5 linked regions of the Homo sapiens genome follow. The protein of the gene in region 5 interacts with the protein of the main gene of each other region in a biochemical or structural test. Each region holds a gene or a part of one and is shown on either strand. Other genes may lie near its edges. The genes, in order: COPG1, TMED10, WBP2, GORAB and COPB1.

Region 1 (6,394 bases), on a different chromosome or scaffold from region 5:
AGCATTGTCATGTTTTGTAAGTCACTGTGTGGGACACCTTAGCCATGAAATCTTGCATTACCCACAACAACCCTGAAGGTAGACAGTTTAATCTTTGCTGACTTGCCCAAAGACTCCTGGCTGGTACTGACAAAGCTAGGCCTGGAGGGCCAGAAGCCCAGAGACTCCCTTTCTAAAGATGTGAGGTCTCATAGTTATTTCCTGTCCTCGATACTCTCTTTTGTTTCCTAAAGGAGCGACATTTGGGGGCAAAGATATGGCAGCTGTGGAAGCCTTCTATGTGGGAAGCTTATCTGGCCCTCATAAGTGTTTTGAGGGGCCACAGCTGGCCCTGAAGACAAGAATCGTGCAAAGGATGAGAAGACAGATGAGAGATAAAGGGAATACATAAACACACAGGGAGCGCCGATAGGCACTCATGACCCAGATGGGTCACATGTTACATGCATGATCTCAGCTCGTCCTTGCTGCTTTGTGAGGCAGTAACCTTCATTCGTATTTTACAGACAAGGAAACCAAGAGCCAGAGAGATAAAAGGAACGGCTGTCCTAGGTCACTGAGGAAGAGTAAAGTGGATGAAAGCCTCATCAAGATAATTCCACACATCATAACAAAGCCAGGCTGGCAAAGGCCTAAATTTAGGCGGCCCTCTGCCTGCCTTGGCCAAGTTTGCCACATCATATGCTCCAAAACAATACTCAGCTGGTTATCAAAATACTTGAATATTTCAGCACCAGCTGGTAAGCAGTCTGTAACCCAAGCGCCCCAAGTGGTACCCTGGATTCTCTAACCCAGGACCTCCTAATTCCTCCCATGATCCAATGACGAAAGGATTAAAGCCTGCTATGGCCAGGGGTCACAAGGATCTCGGTGGCAAGTGTCCATGCCAACTGGCCAGTGCCTTACCACCTGCCTGAGTGTTTTAAATATCACTCCCTTGCTCACATCTCACCTGGACCATGATGTTATCACTGGATGCTGCCTCCTGAGCCTCATTCACCCAGCGCTTGACCACGTCAAAGCTGCACTTCAGCAGGTGCTGTGGGCAACAGGACACATTAAGGGGCAGGTAGGAAGTGTCCCCATCACACATTCTGGGCCCAGTTCTGGTCTTCCCTCAGACACAGCTCAGGGGCTCGCCACTGTCCTGGTCCTCAGAGACCATGGACAAACTCAGGATGCTCCCACCCTCAATGTCCCTCCCCAAGGCATGGGTCAACACCATCCACCCACGACTCTCTTCAATCACCCCAGAGTTTCTTGGCTGTCTTCACTGAGAAGGGTGGGACTCTCAGGCTTACAGATACAGAAATACTTTATTTTGGCCAGGTGCGGTGGCTCACGCTTTGTAATCCCAGCACTTTGGGAGGCCGAGGCGGGTGGATCACTTGAAGTCAGGAGCTCAAGACCAGCCTGACCAACATGGTGAAACTACGTCTCTACCAAAAATACAAAAATCAGTTGGGCGTGGTGGTGCACACCTGCAATCTCAGCTACTCAGGTGGCTGAGGCATGTGAATCGCTTGAGCCAGGGAGGCAGAGGTTGCAGTGAGCTGAAATCGAGCCATTGCACTCCAGCCTGGGCAACAGAGTGAGACTCTGTCTCAAAAAAAAAAAAAGAAGAAAGAGAGGCCAGGCACAGTGGCTCACGCCTGCAATCCCAGCACTTTGGGAGGCCGAGGCGGGTAGATCATGAGGTCTGTAGTTCAAGACCAGCCTGGCCAAGATGATGAAACCCTGTCTCTACTAAAAACACAAAAATTAGCTGGGCACAGTGGCAGACGCCTGTAATCCCAGCTACTCAAGAGGCTGAGGCAAGAAAATCACTTGAACCCCGGCGGCAGAGGTTGCAGTGAGCCGAGATCGTGGCGCTGCACTCTAGCCTGGGTGACAGAGTGAGACTCCGTCTCAATCAAAAAAAAAAAAAGAAAGAAAGAAACACTTTCTTTTTTCCTACTGGAATGTGACTCTTAAATTTTCTTCAATTTTCTACCCCACCCCCAGCAGGGCTCCAGCAGCAACTACACACCAAGGAAGACACGAGGGCAGAGCTGGAGACACTGGGCACCTTGTCCACAATGGCTTGTTTCATGTAGCGCTCAATAGCCTGCAGCATGGTGCTCTGTGGGCAAAAGGAGCAGGGTGGAAGGAGATCCAGTCAGTCCTTGGCAGCTCTCAGGAGTGCAGGAATGGGGGCAGAGATGAGTATGAGGAGGAAGTAAGCGTTTCTCATGTGCTCCTGCACACTGCCTCCACCCCACATCACCTGGCTCAGTGATAGGGGACACCCCAAAGAATGCAAAAGATGATGCCGAGGCCTCAATCAAGAGGCCAGGAAGCAGGGAGGAACCGGCACGACTCACATCAGTGATCTGGCAGAGGGCTCGCACGGCCGGGCCCCGGTAGTTGTCTTCTTTCCCAGTCATGTCTTTTGTTAGGCTGCAGGGAAGAAGGCATTGTCAGCATGCAGAGAGCCTGGGCCTGTTTACTCCTCTCCAGCTCCCAACACCACCCTTGCCCAGATTACTACACGAGCCTCCTAACCAGTGCTCTCCCTCTATTCCTGCCCCTCCAAGCCTAACTCCACACAGCTGCTGGAGGGAGTTTCATAAGACTCAAAACCAAACAGGTCATCCCCCTGCTTTTGCTAAAAAGTTTCCATAGCTTCCTACTGCCAGTGACCTGAATGTAACTCCTTGAACTTCCCTAACTGGCTATGCTCACTCCTCTCCAGCCTTTGCATGTGCTGTTTCCTCAGCCTGTAGCATTCCTCACCCCTCACCTCCACTCTGTCCTACTCTTTTTTTTTTTGAGACAGAGTCTCGCTTTGTCGCCCAGGCTGGAGCGCAATGGGGTGCGATCTTGGCTCATTGCAACCTCTACATCCCGAGCTCAAGCTCTACTGCCTCAGCCTCCCCAGCAGCTGGGACTACAGGCACATGCCACCATACCCGGCTAATTTTTGTATTTTTAGTAGAGAGGGGGTTTCACTATGTTGGCCAGGCTGGTCTTGAACTCCCGACCTTGTGATCCACCCGCCTCGGCCTCCCAAACTGCTGGGATTACAGGCATGAGCCATCACTCCTGGCTTTTTTTTTTTTTTTTTGAGACGCAGTCTCGTTCTGTCACCCAGGCTGGAGTGTAAGTGGCATGATCTCAGCTCACTGCAACCTCCACCTCCCCAGTTCAAGCAATTCTCCTGCCTCAGCCTCCCCAGTAGCTGGGATTATAGGTGTGCGCCACCACACCTGGCTAATTTTTGTATTTTTAGTAGAAACGGGGTTTCACCATGTTGGCCAGGATGGTCTCAAACTCCTGACCTCAAGTGATCCACCCATCGCAGTCTGTGGATTACATTGTGGATACAGTGCTGGGATTACAGGCATGAGCCACTGCGCCTGTCCTGTCCTACTATTTCTTACTCATCCTTCAGGACTCCACTTAGATCATTCCTCTGGGAGGACTTTCGTAATTCTAATCAAGCTGGATGCTCTTCTGGTCTGCTCTCATAGCCCATAATACTTCCGTGATAAACTATATTACACCCTACCTTAATGGCCTGATGCCTGGTTATTTCTCTGTAAATTCTGGGGCTACAGAGGCCATGTCTATCTTTTTTGTTGCTATATCCCCAGAGCTACACACAGGGACTGACAGACAATATTTTCTAACTGAACCTACAAATCAATGTATGACCCCCACAACCTTAAACTGTGGCAGGAAGAAATAAGAGAACTGAGCCCCAGTTCTTAAGGGCAGTGATTACACTTTAGTCACATCTGTCCCTGAATTGCTTAGCTTAAAGCAGACACCAGTCACTTAGTAAGCAGTATACCGCTTGTACTCTCTTGTTTATTTTTCTTGTGTTCTCTCTTTATACTCAAGAAAGTCTTTGGGAAAGTTCTAAGCTGGTTTGGTTGACTAAGAGAAATCAAGAAAAGGAAGCATTTGTGTCCAAGTCAAGGTCAGAGAATTAAAATAGAAACAGCACACCTGGAGGCTGCCATGGGGTGGGCAGTGGTAACAGGGAAGCTGCCACGGGGTGGGCAGCTGGCAATATGCAACCAAGTCTCACTGTCTGGTACACACAAGAAAAAAATGGTCTGTCAATGGAACCCATCAGAAGAGCCACCCACAACCCCATGACTTGCCTGCTGGTGACAATGATGACATCCTCTGCAATGCAAGACATCTCCTTGATGGTCAAGTAGCACATCCGACGGAGTGTGGGCTGGGAGATAGGTGGGAAAAGCCCTATCAGCCCGGGCTCACCAAGGGCCAGAGTTGGGAGAAGATACCTCCTGTCTCCACAAAGGCAGCCCACACTGACTGGTGGGGCCAGCTCTCTTTGGCCCTCCCACCACCTTGTTACAGCTGCCACCTCTCAAGGAAAGCTGGGTTGAGGCACTTACATCATTGGACTGAAAGAGCTTGGTCATGGCAAAGAAGGCCTCGGTCGCTTCCGTGGTCCCCAGGTGCTCCCCCTGTGTTAATCAAGAAAGAAGTCTCAGCTTGGGACAGAGGGTCAGACAGCAGTTCTTTCAGGATCAGCCCACACCAGATCCCCAGACCCTAAAGAGGCTCAAGGGCAACATATGAGACTTGGATGCTGAGGGGACCCAGAGCTGAGCTGTTGTCTACAGCCACACAGAGGCTGTCCAATAGCCTAAGAGTGATCATGATTTGTCCACTCCCCTCCAATCCCCCAGCACCATTCTCCCTACCCGCAAGCTTCACCCTGTTACCTGGTTTATGAGATAAAGAATCTTGGTGAGGATGTGGGCACATTTCCGAGGGTTGATGGGAGTTTCATTAAATACACGGGCCTAAGAAGAAATGACCAAAGATGTTACCTTCTAGCCTAGTTCATTTCCCTTCAAGTATATTCAATGTCTGAGAAGTCTCAGGGTAAACTGACTTGTCTAAACAGGGCTTTCTGGGTATGCAACAAGCTTATTTTCATAAGGAAAGGGTTTGTTTTTCTTTAATCAACTACTAATTATTCTTAGACTCTCGTGTAAATATTAGTTAGGGATGTGCTAACCTATTGACTAGCAGATACTTAGCAACCATCTGCTAACTGGAAACAGAAACAATGAACGACAACAATAAAGAAAGAAGCGGCTGGACGCAGTAGCTCACACCTGTAATCCTAGCACTTTGGGAGGCCGAGGCGGGTGGATCACCTGAGGTCAGTTCGAGACCAGCCTGGCCAACATGGTGAAACCCCGTCTGTACTAAAAATACAAAACTTAGCCAGGCATGGTGGTGGGCACCTGTAATCTCAGCTACTCGGGAGGCCGAGGCAGGAGAATTGCTGGAACCCAGGAGGCGGAGGTTGCAGCAAGCCAAGATCATGCCATTGCACTCCACCCCAGGCTGACACCAGCAAGTCTCCATCTCAAAAAAAAAAAGAGAAGTGGCCGGGCGCGGTGGCTCACGCTTATAATCCCAGCACTTTGGGAGGCCGAGGCGGGAGGATCAAGAGGTCAGGATTCACACCATTCTCCTGCCTGGCCAACATCGTGAAACCTCATCTCTACTAAAAATATAAAAATCAGCCAGGCATAGTGGCGTGCGCCTGTAGTCCCGGCTACTTGGGAGGCTGAGACAGAAAAATTGCTTGAACCCAGGAGGCAGAGGTTGCAGTTGAGCCGAGATCGTGCCACTGCACTCCAGCCTGAGCAACAGAGTGAGACGCCTTCTAAAAAAAAATACATATATATATATATATAAAAAATATATATAATAAAAATAAACAAGTCATGCAAAATCTCTACCTGCATAATGGCCACAGTCTAGCTTAGGTGATAGTTTTAAACCAGTTTCCTTAGCTTTGGAATTAACTTTAAATAGAGAAATTTTTTAAATGTTTAAATAGAGAGGCCAGGCGCGGTGGCTCAAGCCTGTAATCCCAGCACTTTGGGAGGCCGAGGCGGGTGGATCACGAGGTCAGGAGATCAAGACCGTCCTGGCTAACGCGGTGAAACCCCGTCTCTACTAAAAATACAAAAAATTAGCCGGGTGTGGTGGCGGGCGTCTGTAGTCCCAGCTACTTGGGAGGCTGAGGCAGGAGAATGGCGTGAACCTGGAAGGCGGAGCTTGCAGTGAGCCGAGATCACGCCACTGCACTCCAGCCTGAGCGACAGAGCAAGACTCTGTCTCAGAAAAAAAAAAAAAAAAAAAAAAAAAAAGAAGTAAGCATAACTAACTCTCTCCAGAAACAAAGTTTTCCTGTCTTCCAGAAAACTTCCAGGCACAAGTTTTCTCCCGTGTTGCTCTTTAAAACAACACTTTGAATGTGTTGGTATTTCAGTTGCATTGGTGGTGAATATTTATGATGGAAGCTAGAGGGGAGCAAATGTCACTTGCCTCCTGGAGTACCGCACTCTTC
Region 2 (6,394 bases), on a different chromosome or scaffold from region 5:
ACATGAAAAGTGCCATGTAAAACAGGATGTAATGGTACTACAGTATCTTTTCATACAACTTTTGGTGAGGGGGAAAAAAGAAGTTATAAGCCAATGGGACACATAGGGGACACAGAAAGTCAAACATTGATCCAGGTAAAGAGAACATTATATTCAAAGAACTGTAAGGTGTTCAGTATAGCTAGAGTCAGAGTGGGAGGAAGCAAATAAAGAGAATGGAAGAGGGAAAGATCAGAGATGAGGCAAAGACAGTGCTTGCTCGTCTGTTCACTAATTCCTTAGGATAAGGTCCTACTATGTGCCAGGCCTTATTTTAGACAAGCATTGCAATGATGAATGAAACCTAGTCTCTGTTCAAGCAGCTTATAGTTTATCCCAGGAGATGGGCAAATACACAACTGCAACACAGAGTGGTATATGATAACATAGGTGCATTCACTGGATACTGAGATGTTCCTAGACAGAAAGAAGGTGAATCAGTCAGATTAACCAAGGCACTATATTCACAGAGACCCTTATAAGAAAGACTGCCTCAGGCTAGGCACAGTGGCTCACGCCTGTAATCCCAGCACTTTGGGAGACGGGCGGATCACCTGAGGTCAGGAGTTTGAGACCAACCTGGACAATATTGTGAAACCCCGTCTCTACTAAAAATACAAAAATTAGCCGGGAGTAGTGGTACGCGCCTATAATCCCAGCTACTTGGGAGGCTGAGGCAGGAGAATTGCTTGAACCTGGGAGGCAGAGGTTGCAGTGAGCCGAGATCATGCCATTGCACTCCAGCCTGGGCAAAAAGAGCGCAACTCCATCTCAAAAAAAAGACTGCCTCATTCAGCACAACCACCAAATGCTAAGCTCAGCTGGCCAGGTTCTGCACCAGTCTCCAGTTCTCCTCCTACCTCAAATCAAACCACAGCTGCCTAAAGCAGGGGTGGAAATATGACCAAAGACAAGACAATCCATTGGCTGAACTGAGACCTAGAATGTGGCCTACCATATGAAAAGGAGCTCTGGCACTTAGGAGTTGCACTCCAGAAGCTAAAATGATGCATAGGGAGAATCCTTGAAGCAGTCGTCAAAATATAAGAAAAAGTGGAACGGCCGGGCGTGGTGGCTCATGCCTGTAATCCCAGCACTTTGGGAGGCAGAGGCGGGCGGATCATGAGGTCAGGGGATTGAGACCATCCTGGCTAACACGGTGAAATACAAAAAATACAAAAAATACAAAAAATTAGCCGGGCGTGGTGGCGGGCGCCTGTAGTCCCAGCTACTTGGGAGGCTGAGGCAGGAGAATGGTGTGAACCCCGGGGAGCAGAGCCTGCAGTGAGCCAAGATTGCACCACCGCACTGCAGCCTGGGTGAAAGCGAGACTCCATCTCAACAAAAAAAGAAAAAGTGGAACTAAGTGAACGGACACCATGAAAAAGACTGAAAGCCGCTATGGGCTGCATCTGCTCACAAATGTGTTCTGTGGCTTGCATGGTATATTACATTTTCAAAAATGACACCTAGCTTGTGGTCTCCAAATACCAATCCCCACAAAAAGGAACTAGAATTCCTTAGAGAAACAGTTGTTCTGAGGTCAGAGGATAGACATATACAAGATAAGCCTAGAACACTTTGTTGTGCCAGAAAACAAGGATGCTATCAAAACCTAACAGGATTATGTTGAAAAAATACAGGAGCCAATATGAAGGAACCAAAGGGACAAATTGGGCATAAAGAATGGAAACAACTGCCTAAAACACAATGATTCTAAAAGTTGAAGCCAACAATTAAAAAGAGTTCAGTAAAATACTTTAAAAAAAAACCCAAAAACTCTTGGACAACACTGAAAATGACAAGGGCAACAATTCCTTACTCTGACAATTATCAATTAGAAGAAATAAATTCTGCATTTATCCTACCAATGTGAATGATAAATTTTAGGATAATCAGATGATATTAATTCCTTAAGAATAATTTCAGCTAATAAATATGGAAGGAGTAACGGAATTAGAAAGTCATCATTTCACAACCTTAATGACATAATAAATGCACACAGTAGTCATCAGTGGATTCCTAAGTGAAAGGTTAATGGGAAACTTTACAATGAAGGCTTTGGGCTATTACCACCCGGGTAGAGAAAAAAATGCCTCCCACACACAAAGATGTCCACATCCTAATCCCTAGAACCCACGAATGTGTTATCTTACATGGCAAAAGGGATTGTGCAGATGTGATTAAATCAGATTAAGGGTCTTGAGGTGGAGAAGATTATCACAAGGGTCCTTATAAGGGAACGAGGGAGGCAGGTGAGTAAGAGAATGAGATGAGATGATGATAGCCGGGGAAGGAGGGAGGAAGAGAGGAAGAAGGGGTGGTGAGGAACAAAGCAGAGGATGGAAAAGGGAAGGAAAGGGAGAGAGTTAAAGATACTATGCTACTGGCTTTAATTTTTTTTTTTTTTTTGAGACAAAGTCTCGCTCTGTCACCCAGGCTGGAGTGCCGTGGCACGATCTCGGCTCACTACAATCTCCGCCTCCCAGGTTCAAGCGATTCCCCTGCCTCAGTCTCCTGAGTAGCTGGGACTACAGGTGTGCACCACCATGCCCAGCTAATTTTTGTATGTTTGGTGAAGACGGGGTTTCACCATGTTGGCCAGGCTGGTCTCAAACTCCTAACCTTCAGTGATTTGCCCGCCTTGGCCTCCCAAAGCGTTGGGATTACAGACGAGAGCCACCGCGCCCAGCCTGGCTTTAAAGATGGAGGAAGGAGATATGAGCCAAAGAATACAAGTGGCTTCTAGAAGCTAGAAAGGGCAAGAAAACTGATCCCCACCCCACTCCCAAAAAGTCTCCAGAAGAAACATGGCTCTGCCAAAACCCTGATTTTAGGACTTCTGACCTTCAGAACGATTAAGACAAATCCCTGATGTTTTAGGCCATAAATCTGTGGTAATTTGTTACAGCAGCAATAGGACACTAAGACACACCTTAATCCACTTATCAATCTTAGCAGCAGCAATAAGGGGCACAAAAAGTACTGTGTGTTCCTGCAGTGACACCCTCGACAGAAAGATTAAACCTGAATCTGGTTACATCTTTTTTTTTTTTTTTACACTTTAAGTTCTGGAGGGGTACATGTGCAGAACGTGCAGGTTTGTTACATAGGTATACGTGTGCCATGGTGGTTTGCTGAACCTCTGGTTACATCTTTACAGCTGATTCCTTTTACAAAAAATATAGTGGAAGAACTGGTTAAAAGACACCTCTAGGAAGCAAAAGACAACTCCGAAATGCTGTACATTCTTTTAAGAGCAATTGACTCCAACAATTCAATTGCAAGGATAAAAAAGGAGGTGAGAGGAAGAGGAGACTGCTCTAGATTAGACACTTGAGAGAGACAACAAATTAACTTTCAAAAGATATTTTTGAGACAAGTGGGATCATACTATATGGACTGGGTATCAAGGAATCATTGTTCTTTTTTTTTTTTTGGAGACAGAGTCTCACTCTGTAGCCCAGGTAGGAGTGCAGTGGCACAATCATACTTCACTGCAACTTCCGCCTCCCAGGTTCAAGAGATTCTCCTGCCTCAGCCTAGAGCAGCTGGGATTACAGATGTGTGCCACCACGCCCAGCTAATTTTTTTTTAAATTTTTAGTAGAGACGGGGTTTCACCGTGTTGGTCAGGCTGGTCTCGAACTCCTGACCTCGTGATTCGCCCACCTCGGCCTCCCAAAGTGCTGGGATTACAGGCATGAGCCACCGCGCCTGGCCATCATTGTTCATTTTGTGAGGCGTGATTAGCCACGTAACATTGTGGTTTATATTTTTAAAGAGATGCATGCTGAAGTAGGCAGGAATGAAATACATGACATCTGGGATTTACTTTAATACAATTTAGCATGAAATGATATGGCAGAAGCAGTTAAGATGACACGTGTGGAAAGATCCTGATAATTGGTGAATATGAGTAATGGGTAGAAAGGTGAACTCACTATACTATTCCCTATAACACTGAAAACAAATCAATGCCCGAACCAATCTGAATTGGCTGGTGAAATTTTTTTTTTTTAATTTTTAGGGGGCCAAACCATTTTATTGAGGAAAATGGAGTGGCAAAGCAGTGGTGAGGACAATGAGATCCATGGCCCTCGGGTGGGCCGGGAGCTCCCAAGCTCTGCAGTGCTGAAACCTGGCTGATGAAATTTAAAAGTCTGGAGCTTTCACATCAAAATCTGGTGTTCCTATTTCATTTGAAAAATCAGATGTGGGCTAGGTGCAATGGCTCATGCCTGTAATCCGAGCACTTTGGGAGGCCGAGATGGGCGGATCACTTGAGCCCAGGAGTTCGAGACCAGCCTGGGTAACATGGCGAAACTCCATTTCTACAAACAAATATGAAAACTAGCCGGATATGGTGGCATGTGCCTGTAATCCCAGCTACTCAGGAGCCTGAAGTAGGAGGATCACCTGGGCCCTGAGGAGGTCAAGGCTGCAGTGAGCTGTGATGGTGCCACTGGAGGGAGGGAGGGAGAGAGGGAGGAAGAAAGGAAGGAAGGGAAGGAAGAGGGGAGGGGAGGGGAAGGGAAAAATCAGATGTGGCAAAAAGGCCCACATGCTTGCATGGCAAGTCTCATCAAGAACTAAGTATTGGTCACCCCTAATTAACAGTTTCTACTACGTCCAATTATTCTCCCATTTATCATCACTGCTTTTTTTTTTAAAATACCTGGTCCAATTTATTCAATGATATTACCTATTTGGCATTTGGGTTTAGGACCCTTGTGGTTCCATTAAGCTGGTTAGTAGCAAAAGAACAGAGCAGACACAGGAGAGCAACTGAGTGATAGTAAAGTGCTAGGGTGTGTGCACAAAGTCCTGCTGGTTTTTGTTTTGCTTTGTTTTGTTTTGTTTTGAGACCGAGTCTTGTTCTGTTGCCCAGGCTGGAGTGCAGTGGCACGGTGTCAGCTCACTGCAGCCACTGCCTCCCAGGTTCTAGTGATTCTCCTGCCTCAGCCTCCCGGGTAGCTGGGATTACAGGCACACGCCACCATGCCCAGCTAATTTTTGTATTTTTAGTAGAGACTGGATTTTAGCATGTTGCTGAGGCTGGTCTTGAACTCCTGACCTCAGGTGATCCACCCGCCTCGGCCTCCCAAAGAGTTAGGGTTACAGGCATGACCCACCAAGCCCGGCCTAAAGTCCTGCTGTTGAGGTGCCTTCAGCAGCCCTAAATTCAATGTAATTCCCATAAGGCCATGCTAAACTACAGTTCCTGTTATTTATAGAGTACTTACTAGAAGCAAGGTAACATGCTTGGCATTCTAGAAAAGATGAACCTGAAAATAGTTCCTACCCTGAGGATACTAACAGTCTAGTAAGTAGGTCAAGGCATAAACAAAAACAGTTCAGAAAATAAGTGAGTTCAGGGTACTGTCCAGGGTGGCTCCATGTAGAATGCAAAGTGGGAAGTGACCACACGTATAGCTCAGAAACAGATCATGAAGAGCACAACAAAGCATGTTGAGAAATTTAAACTATCAATAAGCAATAGTGAGCCACTGAAGGGCTTTAAAATATAAGAACAAATCAGACAGCAACACGAGATGAGAGCAAGGTCTCTTTCATTGCTGAAATTCCCTGAGTCCATGAACATCCTCTGAAGAGTTGGAAGCATGATCTCCCACCCCGGAAACACTATATCTAAGCTTCTAAAATCATGCCATCACTATTTTCCTGGGTAGAGAGTTTGATACCCAAACAGAATAATAAAATGATGGGTCACAGATTAATTGCCCTGAAAATAGTTTGTCTCTCCCAAATAAAGTAGAAATAAATTACATGTATTACCACACTACTGGGTTCCACTACTTTAACATAAGTTATGGTCTTATTATATCTGAAACCCTTTTAAAAAGTAAAAACGAGGCCAGGCGCGGTGGCTTACGGCTGTAATCCCAGCACTTTGGGAGGCCGAGGCGGGCAGATCACGAGGTCAAGAGATCAAGACCATCCTGGCCAACATGGTGAACCGTCATCTCTACTAAAATACAAAAATTAGCTGGGTGTGGTGGCTGGCGCCTGTAGTCCTAGCTACTCGGAAGGCTGAGGCAGGAGAATTGCTTGAAACCGGGAGGCAGAGGCTGCAGTGAGCCGAGATCGCGCCACAGCACTCCAGCCTGGACGACAGAGCAAGACTCCGTCTCAAAAAAAAAAAAAAAAAAAAAAAAAGTAAAAATGTTTCTATTTAGTATAACAAAAGCCCCATTGTGTTACAAAGAAAAAAAAAGACACTTTGCTTATTGTGAATGAATAAAATTACCTAAAATGCAACCAAATACTGACAGATATCAAATTATATTAATGTCTCAAAGACCAGGCCAGGCTACTCTTAGCTACAAAACAGA
Region 3 (6,394 bases), on a different chromosome or scaffold from region 5:
TGGCCTGGGGGGAGCCTGGGTAGGTGGGCTCATGAGGGGAGTGGGGGCAGCAAAGGACACACTCACCAGGTGGGGGCGGTGGATAGGGGTAGCCAGGAGGGCAGGGGTACATTCCATTGGCGACTGGCGGGGGATAGACATAGGCCCCGCTGGGCATGTAAGAGTAGCCATAGGCTCCACTGGGGACTTCACCTCTGGAGGCTACGAGTACAAGGGGAAAGAGAAATGAGCGTGGCCTGCCTTGGGGCGGGGAGAGGGCAGCCCCGCTGCCTGCAGATGGGAGCTACTGGGTCTCAGGAATGTGCCCCGCAGACATCCTCTGTCCATCCCACTCCACCCTCCACCCATACTCGGGGGGCCACCTTGGTCAGGGATGAGAGAGGACGGGAGAGGTCAGAGCCAGGGGAAGGCAAGGGAGGTCAAGGGCAAGGCTGGAGGGTGGACAGAGGCCGGGAGGGAGGCTCAGGGCTGGGGTAGGAGTGAGCTGGCGGAGGATGTCTGCTGGCCCATCCCTCGGTCATTTTCAATGGCTGCGGAACCGCAGTCGAATGGTTGGTTTAGTGTTTGTTTTATGAGGCCATAGTAAAGTGTCCTTGAGTCCAAACAGCTTTGTCAAAACGTCATCCACCTGCCCCAGGCAGGGAAACGCAGTCTCTGAGGTACAGGACAGAGCTGATGCCAATGACAGCTTTCCTTCCCAACTCCTAGGCCTGGTCAGCCTGGTGCCCAAACACTTACCTCTTGAGTTCTTGAAAAAGCAAAACGAAAAGGAAGCAAACTCATACCAAACCCCTACATGTTTAGTGTGTCTTTAGCCCCTAATCTTCGGAGCCTGGATACCTTGAGATGCCACCTGGAGCATCCGCTGTCCGAACTCAATGGCGCCCCCTGCCGTGAAAGTCAACTTGTAGGAAGCAGAGCCTTCCCAGCCACCTGAAAGGGGAAGGACAGTGAATAAACAGCACAGGAAAAGAAAACTTATGCCCAAAGAGATGGCTGTTTTCCTCTCCAGGACTTCATCCAACGCCCGGGAGGCCTGCGGGGGCTGGGCCTGCACTGTGATGGGGACTTCCTGGTGCCATGGTTTCCAGCCTGCTGCCTGCATAGGAGCCAGCACTGCAGCCTGGCCTGGCCCTGCTGTACTCGCTTCCCCCTTTGGAACAATGGCCTCTCCTTCCTGGAACAAGCCTGTCCTCCCACCCTTGGCCCAATATGTACACGGGTGCCAAGGCCACATCAAGGTTTCTCTCCGCCCCCAGTCAAGCACTCGGCAGCTTCACAGGAACAAGCCCACTCAGCAACAGCCGACCTTAAAATTCAGAGCAGACCTCTCGTCCTAAGGGGGCCCAAGGACAGACTCCGGCCCCTCTAGCCTGGCTTCTGCCCAAAGGGGGACCAAGAGTGTCTCAATAGCAAGGGCGGGCCTGGCTGGGTGTCAAGGGGAAGGCAAGTTCAATGCAGAGGTCTCTGGGGCCTGCCAAAAAGCCAGCCCCAAAGCAGGGTGACTCTGGCTTCCCAGAGGCAGCTGCCTCTTCCTGGCTCTCATGAAAAGGCCCCTCTCAAGAACCTGATGCAGCTCCTTCCTGAGTCTAAAATTTGTATGCGCTCGCCAAGTTGCACTAAGCATCTTGACTCAGTCCGCAGGCTTCTGCAGACTTCACGCTCTGAAAAGCTGATCTGAGCTGCTGTCTTTCATGCCAGCATTTTCCCCACCTCTTGGCAATCAAACCCCACCAGCTGGCAGCCCAGAGCTGGGAAGAGGTCATGGCTAGGGCGATAAGGGTCTGAAGGGGACGCCCCCACGGCGGCAGTCAGAGGTTCCCAGGACACCTCCCTGCAGGCCCCATGCGTGTCCCTGAGTTCCCATCACCTACCTCCCGCTTCCGCCTTCACTGTTCCCTTGATGTAGTTTGCACCAAATACGGGCTGCTTGATCTCACAGTCTTTCATGAGATAAAATGGCATCATGAAGGACTGCATGGCATCCTTGCCCTTGGACAGAAAGATGACCTGCAGGGAGAGAGGGTGAGGCCATCAGTACTAGAAGCACAGCCCACGCTGCCATGCTTCCCGCCTGCTTCCTGGGAGTGACGAATCCTCTCCCAGTGCCAGGGTCCAGCAGCCCCATGGCTCTCTCTGTGCCAGACACTCCTGGAGAGAGCTTTGGAAAGGGAAAGGGCTCACCGCAGCCTGGAGAGGCCAAGCTCACGCACACGGGAGAAAAACGTGCTGGTCACAGATAGTATCTATGAGCAGGGCAGACTGCTTTGTCACTGACGTGGTGGGGTGGTGGCAGTGTTGCCTAAGTGAAGGGGCCTACGAAGCTAGGGAAGGACAGGCAGAGGCAAGGCAGGGATGGGTTCCTGAAAGAGGGGGGTCTCCAGCCTGAACTCTCCAGAACTGAGAATGATGGTGCAGTAGGTCGCTAGCTCCCATTGAGGGGGGCTATAAACAGCAACAAGAGCTCTCCTGGAGCCTGTGCCTGGAGAAACCCTTGGGTTTTATTTTTTCTTTTCTTTTCTTTTTTTTTTTTTGAGATGGAGTCTTACTCTGTTGCCTGGGCTGGAGTGCAGTGGCGCGATCTTGGCTCGCTGCAAGCTCCGCCTCCCGGGTTCACGCCATTCTCCTGCCTCAGCCTCCTGAGTAGCTGGGACTACAGGTGCCCGCCACCATGCCCGGCTAATTTTTTGTAGTTTTAGGAGAGATGGGGTTTCACCGTGTTAGCCAGGATGGTCTCGATCTCCTGACCTCATGATCCGCCCGCCTCGGCCTCCCAAAGTGCTGGGATTACAGGCATGAGCCACCGCACCCGGCCCCAGCCAGGGTTTTAAACCCACGACTTTTATCTGTGACTGAAGGTGCCAAGTTGAGCCTCCAGAGATGGGGTTTTGAGACTCTCCTGTCTTTGTGAAGTCATGGAGATTAAAACTTGAAAATGTGCTCCTCTTCTTCCAGCTGTCTTTGAGTCTAAGTCTTTTTTTTTTAGGCAGGGTCTCACTCTGTTGCCCAGGCTAGAATCCAGTGGCATGATCCCAGCTCACTGCAGCCTCAACCTCTCCAGGCTCCAGTTATTCTCCACCTTACCTCTCGGGTAGCTGAGACTAGAGGCATGTGCCACCACACCCAGCTAATTTTTGTATTTTTTGTAGAGATGGGGTTTTGCCATGTTGCCCAGGCTGGTCTCGAACTCCTGAGTTCAAGTGGCCTGCCTACCTTGGCCTCCCAGAGTGCTGGGATTACAGGCATGAGCCTCCGCACCAGCCTGTCTTTGAGTCTAAATCTTGAGTAGCCACAGGCAGCAATCCTTTTCCAAGAACATCCATTTGTATTTCTCAACCTCTCAGAGTCCACGTGGGTAACTCTCAGGCAGGGCCCATTCTGCAGCCTGGCATTTGTCATTCTGCGGGGTGGTACCGGGCTCTCTGCCCAGTCCGGAGGCCGTGCCATGCAACTGTACCCTGTTTACTGGATTTCTCACTCTGGATACACACAGGGCTTCATGGGCTACTCTCACAGAAAACAAAATATTAATAATAATAGTCTGGCCTCCAGGCCCAAGTCATGCCAGCGGCTGCATCCAACTCTATAGAGATTTTGCAGCAGCGGCTCTGGAATTGACATGGGTTCACTGCCCAGTGGTCAGGTCAGTTACACAAAGAGCCTGGTGATTCTGGAATCCAGGAGCATGTGACAGAGAAACAGGCAGAGTGAAGCACTAACACTCACCAGGATTCAGAGGCCACCTGACTCATGAGGCTGAGGCAGACCTGAGACTAAGACTCACGTCACCTCCAACAGCAACAAGCCTCTCAACCAACTGCCCTGCTGTGCAACTCACCCGGTAAGGGGTAAGGTAGACAGTGCCTTTCTTGGTCCCTTTGAAGGCTTCTGGCACGTTCTTCATGTCATTGAATGTGAGTTCCACGTGATCATAGGACATTAGGATGCTGTGATGAGAAAAGAGGAAAAGCCTCAATGAGACAGTATGGAGACGCGACGTCACCCAGACACTGGGCCTTTCTCCCAAGCAGCTGCCCGGCACGTCAGCTCTCATAACCTCTCAATAGTGCGGCATTAAAACTATTCATAGGGCTGGGCGCGGTGGCTCACGCCCGTAATCCCAGCACTTTGGGAGGCCGAGGCGAGCGGATGACCCCTGGTCAGGAGTTTGAGACCAGCCTGGCCAACATGGTGAAACCCCATCTCTACTAAAAATACAAAAAAATTAGCCAGGCACCGTGGCGGGCACCTGTAATCCCAGCTAGTCAGGAGGCTGAGGCGGGAGAATCGCTTGAACCCAGGAGGCAGAGGTTGCAGTGAGCTGAGATGGCGCCACTGAACTCCAGCCTGGGCAACAAGAGAGAAGCTCTGTCTCAAAAACAAATAAATAAATAAAGCCATTCATAGGGCCAGGCGCAGTGGCCCACACCTGTAATCCCAGCACTTTGGGAGGCTGAGGCGGGTGAATCGCTTGAGCCTAGGAGTTTGAGACCAGCCTGGGCAACATGGTGAGACCTCATCTCTACAAAAAAACTAAAAACCAACAAAAAAACCCATTAATATAGCCATGGAAGAAATGAGCAGGTTGGGGGTTCTGTAAAATTTCCCAAACCCCGCTTATAAAGCCCCCAAATGATCAACATGGTAGCAGAGCTACAGGGCTCTGAAGAGGCCATCATCCCTCAAGCAAGTTAGATAATCTGGCTTAACTCTTCTATTTTCTTTATTTTTTTTTTTTTTTTTTGAGACGGAGTCTCACTCTGTCACCCAGGCTGGCGTGCAGTGGCGTGATCTCGGCTCACTGCAAGCTCCGCCTCCTGGGTTCATGCCATTCTCCTGCCTCAGTCTCCCAAGTAGCTGGGACTACAGGCGCCCGCCACCACGACTGGCTAATTTTTTGTATTTTTAGTAGAGACGGGGTTTCACCGTGTTAGCCAGGATGGTCTCGATCTCCTGACTTCGTGATCCACCTGCCTCGGCCTCCCAAAGTGCAGGGATTACAGGCGTGAGCCACTGCGCCCGGCCAACTCTTCTATTTTCTTTTAAGTCCTTGTGATAGATGTTCTGTTTTTGCTGGTTTGTTTTTCAAGCCTAAAATATAAACATGTCTAAGAGATGACTGTACAGATCACAATAGGACGTCCTTCGGGGTTCTTTTAAACCTGGGTTCTTAAGCGGGGTTTGCAGGAAAGTCCATGAAGCCCTTGAGATGATCACGTATGTCATATGTGCATTTTTCTGGGAGGAGAGTCCACAGCTTTCATCATTGTCAAAGGAGTTCACGACTTGAAGAGTAACGTTCACTATTTTAATTATAATTTTTTATTTTTTTGAGACGGAGTTTCACTCTTGTTGCCCAGGCTGCAGTGCAACATAGCGTGATCTCAGCTCACTGCAACCTCCACCTCCTGCGTTCAAGCGATTCTCCTGTCTCAGCCTTCCAAGTAGCTGGGATTACAGGCATGCGCCACCACGCCTGGCTAATTTTTTGTGTTTAGTAGAGACGAGGTTTTACCATGTTGGTCAGGCGGGTTTCAAACTCCTGACCTCAAGTGATCCACCCACCTCAGCCTCCCAAAGTGCTGGGATTACAGGCGTGAGCCACCATGCCCAGCCTAATTATCAAATTTTGGACACTGGACTTAACACTTCAATTGTTATAGATACAACTTTTTCAGACAGCAGGCTGAAGCACTTTCTAAAACAGCAGGCTGAAGGCACACCTTACTTAGCAGGACTGAGCCCTAAGCCAGGTAGAAGGCCGAGCAGGATAGATACATTCTTGTCTCAGAAAGTTCCACAGAGACAGAAAGAAAAACAGTCCCCAGAGATGTTGCCAAATGGCACGAAAAGCTGGCCAGGCCTGGGAACTGACTCACACACAGAGATGCAACAAAACAGTGTGAGGTGTCTCTGATTACATGATAAAAAGGTTCACACGGTTCTGTTTGTCTTCTGCCTCCCCCCATATATCACAACTTTCTCTGACTGGGGAAGGGTAAGTGGGAAACAACTGGTATAAGCAAAGGAAAATGGCTGGGCGCGGTGGCTCACTCCTGTAATCCCAATACTTTGGGAGGCCGAGGAGGGTGGATCACGAGGTCAGGAGTTCGAGACCAGCCTGCCCAACATGGTGAAACCCTATGTCTACTAAAAATACAAAAAATTAGCTGGGTGTAGTGGCGGGTGCCTGTAATGCCAACTACTGGGGAGGCTGAGGCAGGATAATCGCTTGAACCCAGGAGGCGGAGGTTGCAGTGAGCTGAGATCGTGCCACTGCACTCCAGCCTGGGCGACAGAGCAAGCCTCCATCTAAAAAAAAAAAAAAAAAAAAAAAAAAAAGAGAAGAGAAGTACTGCTCAGAGAAAAGAAGGAATTACCAGCAACAGGCTGG
Region 4 (6,394 bases), on a different chromosome or scaffold from region 5:
TGGCCAGGCGTGGTGGCTCACACCTGTAATCCCAGAACTTTGGGAGGCTGAGGCAGGCGGATCACCTGAGGTCAAGAGTTGGAGACCAGCCTGGCCAACATGGTGAAACCCCATCTCTATTAAAAATACAAAAAATTAGCCAGGTGTGGTGGTGGGCACCTATAGTTGGGCTACTCAGGAGGCTGAGGCAGGAGGATCGCTTGAATCTGGGAGGCGGAGGTTGCAGTGAGCCAAAATCGCACCACTGCACTCCAGCCTGGGCAATAAGAGTGATACTCCGTCTCAAAAACCTAAAAATAAAAACAAAAATAGTGGCACACAACATCTACTTACATTCAACTACATCAATATTAGTACCATGAGAAACTGTCATCTGTAACTTACTAAAGATTTAAAAATTTACTAAAATTTCATTTAGGATACTTATAGACTATAGGATGTTTTTTCCTTTAGTAATCCCACCTTCTTTGTTGTGGTTCTTAGAAGGCTAAAACTATGACATTTCTTATATAATACTGAATATGAAAAAGCGTCTTTCTCCAGTTTCCACTAGGACAAAATTAAAATCAAATTACTTTTCTTTCTTTTTTTTTTTTGAGACGGAGTCTCGCTCTGTTGCCCAGGCTGGAGTGCAGTGGCGCAATCTTGGCTCACTGCAAGATCCGCCTCCCAGGTTCACGCCATTCTCCTGCTTCAGCCTCCTGAGTAGCTGGGACTATAGGCGCCCACCACCACGCCCAGCTAATTTTTTGTATTTTTAGTACAGATGAAGTTTCACCGTGTTAGCCAGGATGGTCTTGAACTCCTGACCTCGTGATCCACCTGCCTTGGCCTCCCAAAATGCTGAGATTACAGGCGTGAGCCACCGTGCCCGGCCTCAAATTTCAACTGAGGTACCTAGTACTTCTACCTTATAATATGAATTATTCATATAAAAGGCTACAAAGGCATAAAAATGTTCCTCTGGCAAACTTATGTTACAGAGAATAAAATGTGCTACAAATCAAGGCTTAGTTTAATCTTAAATAAAATCTCTGTTATCTCCCTTAATGACCTTATTAATGGAAACCTGGAACCTCTGGTTATCAGCTACTGATGGCATTCTTTTAAGTAGTTAATTAATAAAGACAACTCTAAGTCTAATAGCATATGGTCCAACAACAATTACAAAAGTCACAAGGACAACCACAAGACTCTTTCTTAAACACTCAACAGTTTATTAAAAACCACAATCAAGCATTTCCGCTTTAATAAATTGTTATATAAACATTCTGATGTTGTGGTTTACCCTGGCCTAATGAGGCATTCTGATTCATTTCTAGTGTAACAGAGTAAGATAGAAAACTGAGTCATTAACACAGCATTCCCTTGTGAAAAAAGACAAACCAGGATGATTAAAGCAATGTTGAAAGGGCTGAAAACCCTGAAATTGGACATATTTTTTTGCCCTTTTATCTGTCTGCAAAGTCCATGTAATTCATTACATGTGTTAGTTCATTTTAAAAATACTCCATGGTATTTTTTCTCTTTTAAAAAATGCCAATGGTTGAAACCAAGGAAACATATATTAAACCATTTCATACAGAGTATAATTGAAAGGAAAAAAAAAGAGAAAATATTTCAAATTTCCAAGACAGAGGATATGCTTAAAATATTCATAAGCTTTTAAAAACTAAACTAGATCCTCTTACTCTGATGAAAGCTAAAGTGAGGACTAGACTTCAATCCTATAGGACTATATCAGATATCAAAAATTTTAATGGAAAGAACACAGACTTGGTGTCAGAGTAACAGTTTTGGCGAAACCACTCAGATATTTACTTTGCTAGATGCTGAAAGATGAGCAAAAACACTTCCAAACATTAAATAGCTGAGGGTTTCGCAGCAAAGACTAAAACGTAAATAAATAATGCAAGAACTGCTCTAATGGCACACGAACAAGGTTAACTAGTAGGGCAGAGTTAAGGAAGACTTCACTGAAGAGGAGACACTTGAATTAGCACAAAAGAAGAATAAATACAGCACTGAATGGGGTTGTTTTGAGGCTTCAATGATGATATACATAAAAGCCCCTGGAACAGCTGGCAATAAACATTAATTAAATCATACTCCTTGTTCAGATTCAATTTCCCCAACTCACCGAGCGTATGAATAGTCTAAGCTGGCCTGATCAATCCGGTTCCTGAGAATTCCAATGTCAGCTGACACCATGTCATCTAAAGCCTGCAACTCCTTCTGGATCCGCTTTAGTTTCATGGTCTCTGCCTGAGTTCTTTTGGATCTAGAAAATCAGGTATGTGAGTGGGAAAATAAGAACATTTTAAAACCATGTGTCCATATACAATGTAAGTGAAAAAGCAAGATACTGCATATACATTTATAATTTATATTTTAAAAGTTAGAAAAAAATCAGAAAAATTGAAATAAAGTAAAAGCTGGTTAACATTTGAGTTTTTGAAATTTTATATTTGCATGTTTCATAAAGTAACAAATAAGTCTAAAAAAACTCAGCAAATAGTTCATTTTAGATTGATATTCATTCTGTAAAGAGAACAAACACTAAAAGAATATATCTGTGTTCCCTTTACATTGAAACATTCAACAGAGCTTTCCAAATTTCTAGTCTTTAATTCTTCCTCTTGCTAAGCCCATTTTCATTTGTCTGATACTTACCTGACATTAAGAACAGATAGATGTCTATACTAAACCACACCTCTTTATATATCTGAGAACATCCACTTAGTTTTAACTTTCTTGGGACCCATTTCCCCAAACTTTTATTGCTTTGATTCTTGTTCTCTAGGAAAACTACTAGTTACGAAAATTCTTTATGGAGCTGAACATCAAAACACTCATTTTCCTTATTTAAAAGCACATCCAACCTCATAATTTCTCAATCCCCTCTCCCAAGTACAATATATACTTAAGAAAGGGAACAAACAAATAAAAAAGCAACCCTTTAATCATGATTTCACTCATTTCAAATTTTCACACACATTGTGAAGGAAGAAGAAAAATCCCCACATAAATCCACCATGTTACATAGCACATTCTCTTGATTTCTACTCTTAGGCATTTACCCTTCCTTTCTGCCTACAAAACTTCACTTAACAGTATGATTCTTTTACGTCAAGTACTTCATTGTCCATTTATTAATAGTTCAAACGTTGTATTTCCTTACACTTCTGTTTATACTGGTGCTGTCTAAAATCAAAAGCACTTATGAGAAGAACTGCTGAGCCTGTACATCTTTTTGTAAAACCACAGAAAACAGCCTTCCCATCTCTTAGAAATTGAAGACTACTAAAATGCTTTAATTATTTTTAAATAATCACTTACCAAAAAAAAAAAAAAAGAGGGCACTACTCTTTTATCTGCTGGTTTTTTCCTTTGAAACATAGTAACTCAGTGAGTTGCATTATTTCCTATGCTTCAAGAAAGATCAAGGTGTACCAGTAGTAGAAAAAGAAAAATCACCATTTCTCAACTACACTCACTCCTCTGGCAGACAAAATTCTGAACTACTCTTATACCCATCACCTTCTTCCCTCTTCTCCTGCCCCTACACATACTCTAGCTTCAAGCAGTAACAGTTTGACAGACTTTTCTGGAAGTCTAAAAAGAAAATGTACTTCCTTGCATTTAGTTTTCACTATTCACAACCATGGATATATTGACTAAGTTTAGTTTCCTAAGGCCACAGGAGATTAGACAGAAACTACAAACTCAGCAAGAGTGGTGGGGGATGGGAAGAATGATTCCAATGGGAATGTTGTTGTGTGCGGCTGGTACAATGCAGTAAATGTGAAGGGGCTGCTGATAGACACTGGAAGGTGAAAGAAAAATTGAATCTCACACAGTGCTCATAATAATGACCCTGAGTCATCAATAAAAAGTTAAACTATATCATGTATCTTCTACTTGTGGAGGCGGGGCAAATTATTTAAGAAAAATGCCCATAGGAAATCCAATTAAGATTCATGGGAGTATGTCACTTATGTAGAAAACCTTATTCCTCTACACATCAAATGATTAAGGCCTCCCCACATAAAAATTAAAACTTGCATTTGTTGCTAATTTACATATACTGATAGCTATTTACTGCTTCCCTTATGAATGTGTAGATGGTTAAAACTGGGAGCACTAATGAAGGTCTTTAAAACTGCAACTATATTTACAAATTTAATATGCTCTATGCTTAAAAAGTTCTCTTTAATAAATTATAACTAGTATTTCAGTATCACTTATAAAGCATAATTTGTTTAGTTAGTCTTAAAAGTAATGGTTGAAGAAAAAATATCAGTTTATTAAAAGAGACATGGGAAAACAAATATAACACATGACACAACTGGTTACAGGTTACAAACAGCCTCTCCTGGTTCAGGTGCCTCACCTTTCTGCAATAGCTTTAGCCAAAAGAGCTTTTTTACGTTTATTTTTCTCTTCCATTAGCCGTTGTTCTTGTTGGAGGACTTCCCAACGAGATTTTTCTTGCCTAGGGGGCAAAAAAAGCATAAAAATGAGTTTATGAAAGAAAAAGAAACTGCTACCCTATCCAACACCTTACCAGTCTCAGTCCTCTAAGTATAAAATTTAATCAAGAAGATTTATGTATATGTTCTTTCAAAAGTCCTCTTAAAAGAAACCCATCTGCAGTTCATTATTTTGCTCTAATGGGAACAAAGACTACGATCTAAAGTAAAGAGGCTTACATAAATTGGACCTCTGAAATCCATTATATATATAATCTAGGAATCCACAAACTGGAAGCCAGAATACTGTGGCATGTGTTTAGGAGTACAAAGAAATTTGTGTAAGTTAATTATGTATTATATGCAGAATGGAGATTAATAAAAATTGGTTTGTAGCTGATGTCATATTATTTATACCTTTTAGAGTTTTCTATAAAGTCTCCACCACCTTAACATGTTTCAGACAATAACCAATGTTTATTTCATATATTAATATTTTCTTTCAATTTGCTCACTTTTTCCCAACTCTTAAGACTTTTTTTTGTCTTTCTTTTTTCCTTTTTGTGGAGAACAGGGTGTCGCTATATTACCCAGTCAGGTCTCGAACTCCTAGGCTCAAGCTATCCTCCCGCCTCTGCCTCCCTAAGTGCTGGGATTACAGGTGTGAGCCACTGTGCCCAGCCCAACTTGGACATTTTTAAACAAAGTAAAACACTAAGAGCTAAGACTGGAATGCTGGGCTAAAGAAAAAAATTCAAAGATGTGAAAACATGTATTGTCTTACAATCTGTCCAATTCTAAAATAAATACATTAAAATTTCCCATAAAGTCATGAGCTTGATGTCAACTCAAATTAAACAAGGTATTGGCAAAGCTATTTATTCCTATTACTGTCACTTCTTACAGCCATTATATCACATACCTCTATTCCCAAATCTAGTAGCCCCTTCCAAAATTGTCCTTCTCTCTCCATTTCTACACCTTCCACCTTAGTGCTGGGACTGGTCATTTCTCACTTTTACTACTGCAGGCATCTCCTCACCAGGCGCCTTAGTTCCACAGCTCACTATGCACTCTCTTGCATATGATCTACAATATTGACACCTGGGATTTCTCTAACCTTTATTTTGATTGCGGCCTTTAGCCCTCAGAGAGCTTCATGGTAACTTGCTGCATTAGTGAACTTGCTAGGAAGGAAGGCATCCCCTGCTTCCGATCCTTTCTCATTTCTTTAATTCTCTACTTATTCATCCCCTGCTTCTGCTTCTGATCCTTCCTCAGTTCTGCTTTTTTTTTTTTTTTTTTTTTTTGGGACAGAATCTTGCTCTGTTGCCCAGGCTGGAATGCAGTGGCATGATCTTGGCTCACTGCAACGTCCACCTCCCAGGTTCAAGCAATTCTTGTGCCTCAGTCTCCCAAGTAGCTGGGACTACAGGCATGCACCACCACGCCCAGCTAATTTTTTTGTATTTTTGGTAGAGACAGGGTTTCCCCATGTTGGCCAAGCTGGTTTCAACTCTTGGCCTCAAGTGATGTGCCTGCCTCAGCCTCCCAAAGTGCTGGGATTATAGGTGTGGGCCACCACGCCTGTCCTCCTTCCTCATTTCTTTAATTCTCTACTGTTCTCTGGCTTATCCTTTGCCACCTCTCCCAGAGAAATGAGGTATCATCTCTGAACATTCTCTAGGACACAGCTTTCCTTTCTCCTCCTTAAAACCTCAAAATTTCTCCTTTACGTGAATGGTTTGAGGTTACAGGTCTTTTATGAAAATTCTTCCAAGTATCCAAAAAAAGAATAAGTTTCCCTATAACATCCAATCCAAATTGTCCAGCTCAATGTAAACTTACCTCCTATTTGTCTCCGGCCTTTGTTAGTAAACTACACTTAGAGACACTTTAATGTATGCACTTGTTCAATATAG
Region 5 (6,394 bases):
GGAACTCACCCTACATTATTATTATTATTATTATTTTTATTATTATTTTTTGAGATGGAGTTTTGGTTTTGTTGCCCAGGCTAGAGTGCAATAGCGCGATCTCGGTTCATCGCAACCTCTGCCTCCCAGGTTCGAGCAATTCTTCTGCTTCAGCCTCCTGAGTAGCTAGGACTACAGGCATGTGCCACCACGCCCAGCTAATTTTGTATTTTTAGTAGAGACGGGGTTTCTCCATGTTGGTCAGGCTGGTCTCGAACTCCCGACCTCAGGTTATCGGCCCGCCTCGGCCTCCCAAAGTGCTGGGATTACAGGCATGAGCCACCACGCCTGGCTCATCTACATTATTAACCAGAATACCACTTTCCTTAATGGATAAAATCTAACAGTAAGATAACTATGAAATTATATCTTAACCAACAAATCTACTAAAGTACAAAGATGCTTATAAAAATTACATTGTAGTCCTTAATAAATTGATACCTGTGACTGTAAAAACTGAGCATTCTAGCTTCATCTAACTGGTTCCTTAAATTGGTTTAAAAATCCAAAATCTCAGCCGGGCGTGGCAGCCTGCACCTACAATCCCAGCACTTTGGGAGGCCAAGGCGAGTGGAACACTTGAGGTCAGGAGTTCGAGACCAGCCTGGCCAACATGGTGAAACCCCATATCTACTAAAAATACAAAAATTGGCTGGGCGTGGTGGTGGGTGCCTGTAATCCCAGCTACTTGGGAGGCTGAGGCAGGAGAATCACTTGAATCCGGGAGGTGGAGGTTGTTGTGAGCCGAGATCGCGCCACTGTGCTCCAGCCTGGGCAACGAGAGTGGAACTCCATCTCAAAACAAAACAAAAACAAATAAAAATTCAAAATCTTCAGCTTTCTAAGAATTGGACTCAGTTATAACTGTAGCCCTTCTCATTTAAAAAGTTCCTTCCTCAAAGCTTCTGACAGTAAAAAGACCGACATTCCACAAAACGAATTCTAAAACAAGGACCAAAGTTAAAAGCCTATAGAGGCTAAGCAAGTGAACATATAAAGTGGCTTGGAGTAATACGGTTGAGAATGACAAGCACTGTCATAAACTGTAAAGTATATAACTTATTTAAAGGGGGTTACTGTTATACAAGTTCAGCAGAATGTTGTCTTGTGGAAGCTAGGAACAGCGCTGCCAGATCTTTTGACTTTTCAATGTTCATAATAAAAAATACAGTGCTGGCCATACAAAATATATCTTCAAGCTATATTCAGTCTGCAAGCAACCACTTTGGAACCACTAGTCTAAAAGACTAAACAGTACTCACAGAATGAAGCCAAAGCAGTATCTTTATTTACCTATAGATGGTATAGATGGCCAAAACAGCATTTCTTCTAACATAGCTGTGTCGATGCTCCAAACATGCACGAATAGCTGGCATTAAAGGTTCTAGCAATTCTGCTTCTTTCAATTTGCAAAGAAAACGAAGAGTAGATCCTCGAATAAATTCATTAGGATGTTGAAGATCCTGATATAAAAATTAAAATATGAAATGCTGAGTTTCAGCTTTTTACAAAAAGAAAATTTTAATGCAAAACTTTCCAATGGAAAAAAAATACGTTTGAGAAAAAACCTAGATTACCGACAATTTCCATCATATTCTTGTTGACTGAAGCAATTTTTACCTATCTCATCAATGTCTTATATGTGTGTCACTGTTTTTTAATTAATATATACACATAAAATGCATAGAAAATGTCTGAAAAGTGACAATAAAACTTTTAAAAATAACTCTTTTACAATTCCAAATCTCTACAACTTACATCTTATCAAAGACTCAATTTTAACAATTAAAACACAGCCCATTCTACCAATTTTACATTTAAATTCAAAGCAATATTCAGAAATAATTATGATTTGGTTTACCTTTCTGTATGCATCACATACAAGGATCATCTCATGTAAAAGTCTCCCATCTGGAGTTGTTTTAGGAACAATTTCCCAAAATACCAGAAGTAATTTCTTGATAGTGTGATCCTGAAGAGGTAGCACAAAACGAATGATGGTCATCAGAAGTCCAGGAAGTTTTTCACCATTCAGAATCATAATGATTACTTTCTTCAAAGCTTCAGTCTTTGACTTTACATCTCCTTTTTCTGAATCAAAAATTTTTTTAAAAAAAAGCACAATTATTTCAAAAGAAAATTCATCACATAAATTTAAAAGCAATTAACAAAATAAAATGTACCTTCTTACTTCAGTATCAGCAATGGTAATAAAAGTACAAACCCAAGTGACAAGGTTCTCCACCTGGTTCTCCACCAAATAATCTGTCTTTGCTCAAGTCATTTATCTCTGGAAATCAGACTCTTTATATATAATATGAAGGCGCTGGATTAGATTTCTGGTTCCTAACCAATTGAGTTAATGCAGGCTCCATGAATCTACAGTCATACCAAGTAAACGTGTTTCAAAACACATATAGCTATTTTTCAAAATGTAAATACATACTATTAATTGATTTTGAATTCAAAACAGCTTTTAGCTATTTGTGTGCATTTTAACAAAGTTAAAACTACTATTATGGGAGGATAAATATGTAACTTTTTTAACATTAGAAAGAGAAACGTCATACTCAAAAAGGCTGAAAACTAAAGTAGTGGATTATTTCTAAAATCTCATCATAGTTCTGCAGGCAGGCTGTAAAACTTTAGAATCTTTCTTAAGATATCATCTGGAAAACTGGGAGGTAATTCAAATGTTCTAGATTAGTAGTCATTATTTAGAATTAAGGATGACACATTAAAGATAAAATGCTAGTTTACTGTTATTTAGCCTAAAAACTCTGCAACATAAAGTATTTTACGCAAAACTATCTAAAATTTCACACCATTATCATTGCATACTGAAGAATTTATAGTACTAAAAATCTTCTGGATCCAAAACTCAAAGGCAGAGAAGTATGTAGTAGCACACTGTACTACAACTGTTTAGATCATCAAAATAAATGAATTATCTTGGGAAGGGGAGAACAAAGAATGATTACAAGTCTTCAATAACCTTAGGGCCATTATGAGGAAAAGAACTACAACTAATGGGTAGTAGTTACCGGGAACCAGATTTGGGCCTAAATATGAGAAATACATTTCTAATGATTAGAGCTAAGCGGCTATGAAACAGAGTTCTGAGCGTCAGATGCGGTGGTTCATCTGGCCCACAGAACTCTTCATTTAATAGCCACTTAAAATTTTTGTATTTTTACTAGAGATGGGGTTTCGCCATGTTGGCCACGCTGGTCTCGAACTCCTGAAGTCAAGTGATCCACCTGCCTCAGCTTCCCAAAGTGCTGGGATTACAGGCATGAGCCACCATGCCCAGTCTCAACTCTTCTTAATGGCAAAAATATACATTAAACTGGAGAGTATGTATTTATTTATTGGTTGGAGGAAGGTAGCTAAGGCAGCTTCAATTAAGACTAGGGCATTGTTCCAACTAAGGGCAGATTTTATTCTTTACCTTCCTAGCTATAACCTTAGGTATCCTGAGGATCTAACAATGAAAATTTTTAAATTATGAGGAAAAACACTAATGAATGTATTCACTATTTTGCATTCAACTATCCTACATGAACATGAAAAAAGGGAAATATATGTGGCTTATGTATATAATGGTATCATTTTAAATATCATAAAACTGGGTTTCTTTTCCCTTCTCTAAAAATAGACCTCAATAGAAACCTAGTATTAAGTAACCTAGAATCAGGAGGTATTCCATTACTGCTGATTAAGAAGTGGGAATAGGCAAGTAAAATATTAAGTTTCTTTTCAAACTGCAAACTATCTTCTAAAAGATCCTTTCTATATTTGAAGCATAATTTTCACTCTGCTCTGTTTAAACAATATTTATCAGTTTAAGTTGTATTTATTTTTAGCAGTTCAATTAAACAAGAATCATTACTTTGGAAAGCATATTAATTATAAATTTTTTTTTTCTTGACAGAATCACTCACAAAAAGGAGACACGGTATACATTTTTAAAATTCAGAAATATGATAAATTTAGTAAAGTTCCAGGACACAAAATCAACATACAAAAATCAGTAGCATTTCTATATGACAACAGTGAACAATCTGAAAAAGAAATTGAAGAAGTAATCTAATCCCATTTACAATACCCACAGATAAAATTAGATACCTAGGAATTAATTTAACCAAATAAATGAAAGATTTCTACAATGAAAACTATAAATACTGATGAAAGAAATTGAAGAGAACATCAACAAATGGAAAGATATTCCATGATCATGGATTAGAAGAATCAGTATTGTTAAAATGTCCATACCACCCAAAGCAATCTAGAGTCAATGCAATTCCCATCAAAATACCAATGACATTCTTCACAGAAAAAAAAAAAAAATCCTAAAATTTATATGGAACCACAAAAGACCCAGAATAGCCAAAGCTATCCTAAGCAAAAAGAACAAAACTGAAGGAATCACATTACTTGACATCAAATTATCCTACATAGCTACAGTAACCAAAACAGCATGGTACTGGCATAAAAACAGACATAAAGACCCATGGAAAATAACAGAACCAAGAAACAAATCCATACACCTACAGTGAACTCATTTTGACAAAGGTGCCAAGAACATACATTGGAGAAAAGACAGTCCCTTCAATAAATGGTGCTTGGAAAACTATGTGCAGAAGAATGAAACTTGTCCCCCATCTCTCAACTTACACAAAAATAAAATCAAAATGGATTAAAGGCTTAAATCTAAGACTTTAAACTATGAAACTACTACAAGAAAATATTGGGAAAAATCTCCAGGACGCTGGTCTGGCCAAAAATTTCTTGAATAATACCCCACAGGCACAGGCAACCAAAGCAAAAACGGACAAATGGGATCACATCAAGTTAAAAAGCTTCCGCACAGCAAAGGAAACAATCGACATACGTGATGAGACAACCCACAGAATGGGAGAAAATATGTGCTAACTACCTATCTCACAAGGGATTAATAACCAGATATGTAAGGAGCTCAAACAACTCTACAGGAAAAAAAAAAACTCATAATCTGATTTAAAAATGGGCAAAAGATTTGAACAGACATTTCACAAAGACATACAATTGGCAAACAGGCATATGAAAAGGTGCTCAACATCACTGATCATCAGAGAAATGCATATCAAAACTACAATGAGATATCATCTCACCCCAGTTAAAATGGCTTTTATCCAAAAGACAAGCAAAAACAAATGCTGGAGAGGATGTGGAGAAAAGGGAACCCTCGTACACTGTTGGTGGGAATGTAAACTAGTATACCCACTATGGAGAACAGTTTGGAGGGTCCTCAAAAAACTAAAAACAGGGGTACCATACGATTCAGCAATCCGACTACTGGGTATATATCCAAAAGAAAGGAAATGAGTACATCAAAGAGATATCTGGACTCCTATGTTTGTTGCAGCACTGTTTACAACAGTCAAAACTTGAAAGCAACCTAAGTGTCCACCAACAGATAAATGTATAAAGAAAATGTGGTACATATACACAATGGAGTACTATTCAGCCATAAAAAAAGAATGAGATCTTGTCATTTGCAAAAATATGGATGGAACTGGAGGTCATTATGTTACATGAAATAAGTCAGGCATAGAAAGACAAACTTCACATGTTCTCACTTATTTGTGGAAGCTAAAAATCAAAACAAACTCACGGAGACAGAGTAAAAGGATGGTTATCAGAGGTGGGAAGGGTAGTGGTAGGGAAGTGGAGATGGTTAATGGGTACAGAAAAAATGAGTTAGACCCGATATTTGATAGCACACAGGGTAACTACAGTCAATAATAATTTAATTGGACATTTAAAAATAACTGAAAGTGTAACTGGATTGTCACACAGAAGACAAATGCTTGAAGGGATGGATACTCCATTTTTCCATGTGATAATTATGTATTGCATGCCTGTATCAAAGCATTTCATGTACCCCATAAATATATACATCTACTGTGTACCCCCAAAAATTAAACATTACAAAAAGTTCAGAAATATAGTTGTTTTCTTATTTGCAAAAATGCATAAAAAATGAAAAGGTAAACTTTTCTGGAAAATACATGTTTATTCCAGTGTTCACCTAATTGTTTGGGTGGGTAATCCAAAGAACAAAGTTCTTTTGGTTTTACAAGCTAAGTAACATGAAGTTAAGTGCACGATGGAATTAAGATATTCCAATACACATCCTCAACCTGTTGCCTAGAGAAAATAATCAGCCACATTAATATATTGAAGTCTACAAAAATTATGACATTTTGAGGAATATCTAAACTATTACAATTTCTTTAGGTTTACTAAGATAAACTGAGATGTTCTATTTCAAACAACCAATATTTAAAGAAGTTCGCATTTTTAATAAAAG

The links.
Region 1: the proteins of COPB1 (region 5) and COPG1 form a complex in vitro, tested with the Homo sapiens proteins (one study listed by BioGRID).
Region 2: the proteins of COPB1 (region 5) and TMED10 form a complex in vitro, tested with the Homo sapiens proteins (one study listed by BioGRID).
Region 3: the proteins of COPB1 (region 5) and WBP2 form a complex in vitro, tested with the Homo sapiens proteins (one study listed by BioGRID).
Region 4: the proteins of COPB1 (region 5) and GORAB form a complex in vitro, tested with the Homo sapiens proteins (one study listed by BioGRID).

What each region holds. Positions count from the first base shown.
Region 1 is NC_000003.12:129,250,713-129,257,106, reverse strand, and holds part of COPG1 (coatomer subunit gamma-1), read right to left. Parts: coding exon 6,373-6,394; intron 4,827-6,372; coding exon 4,746-4,826; intron 4,485-4,745; coding exon 4,413-4,484; intron 4,232-4,412; coding exon 4,152-4,231; intron 2,440-4,151; coding exon 2,364-2,439; intron 2,123-2,363; coding exon 2,030-2,122; intron 1,040-2,029; coding exon 953-1,039; intron 1-952. UniProt on the Homo sapiens protein: The coatomer is a cytosolic protein complex that binds to dilysine motifs and reversibly associates with Golgi non-clathrin-coated vesicles, which further mediate biosynthetic protein transport from the ER, via the Golgi up to the trans Golgi network.
Region 2 is NC_000014.9:75,168,847-75,175,240, forward strand, and holds part of TMED10 (transmembrane emp24 domain-containing protein 10 precursor), read right to left. Parts: intron 1-6,394. UniProt on the Homo sapiens protein: Cargo receptor involved in protein vesicular trafficking and quality control in the endoplasmic reticulum (ER) and Golgi.
Region 3 is NC_000017.11:75,847,730-75,854,123, forward strand, and holds part of WBP2 (WW domain-binding protein 2), read right to left. Parts: intron 3,948-6,394; coding exon 3,839-3,947; intron 2,011-3,838; coding exon 1,875-2,010; intron 934-1,874; coding exon 841-933; intron 202-840; coding exon 67-201; intron 1-66. UniProt on the Homo sapiens protein: Acts as a transcriptional coactivator of estrogen and progesterone receptors (ESR1 and PGR) upon hormone activation. In presence of estrogen, binds to ESR1-responsive promoters. Synergizes with YAP1 to enhance PGR activity.
Region 4 is NC_000001.11:170,540,592-170,546,985, reverse strand, and holds part of GORAB (RAB6-interacting golgin), read right to left. Parts: intron 4,496-6,394; coding exon 4,394-4,495; intron 2,282-4,393; coding exon 2,141-2,281; coding exon of another isoform or gene 2,137-2,140; exon of another isoform or gene 1,195-2,136; intron 1-1,194.
Region 5 is NC_000011.10:14,492,310-14,498,703, forward strand, and holds part of COPB1 (coatomer subunit beta), read right to left. Parts: intron 2,131-6,394; coding exon 1,901-2,130; intron 1,503-1,900; coding exon 1,333-1,502; intron 1-1,332. UniProt on the Homo sapiens protein: The coatomer is a cytosolic protein complex that binds to dilysine motifs and reversibly associates with Golgi non-clathrin-coated vesicles, which further mediate biosynthetic protein transport from the ER, via the Golgi up to the trans Golgi network.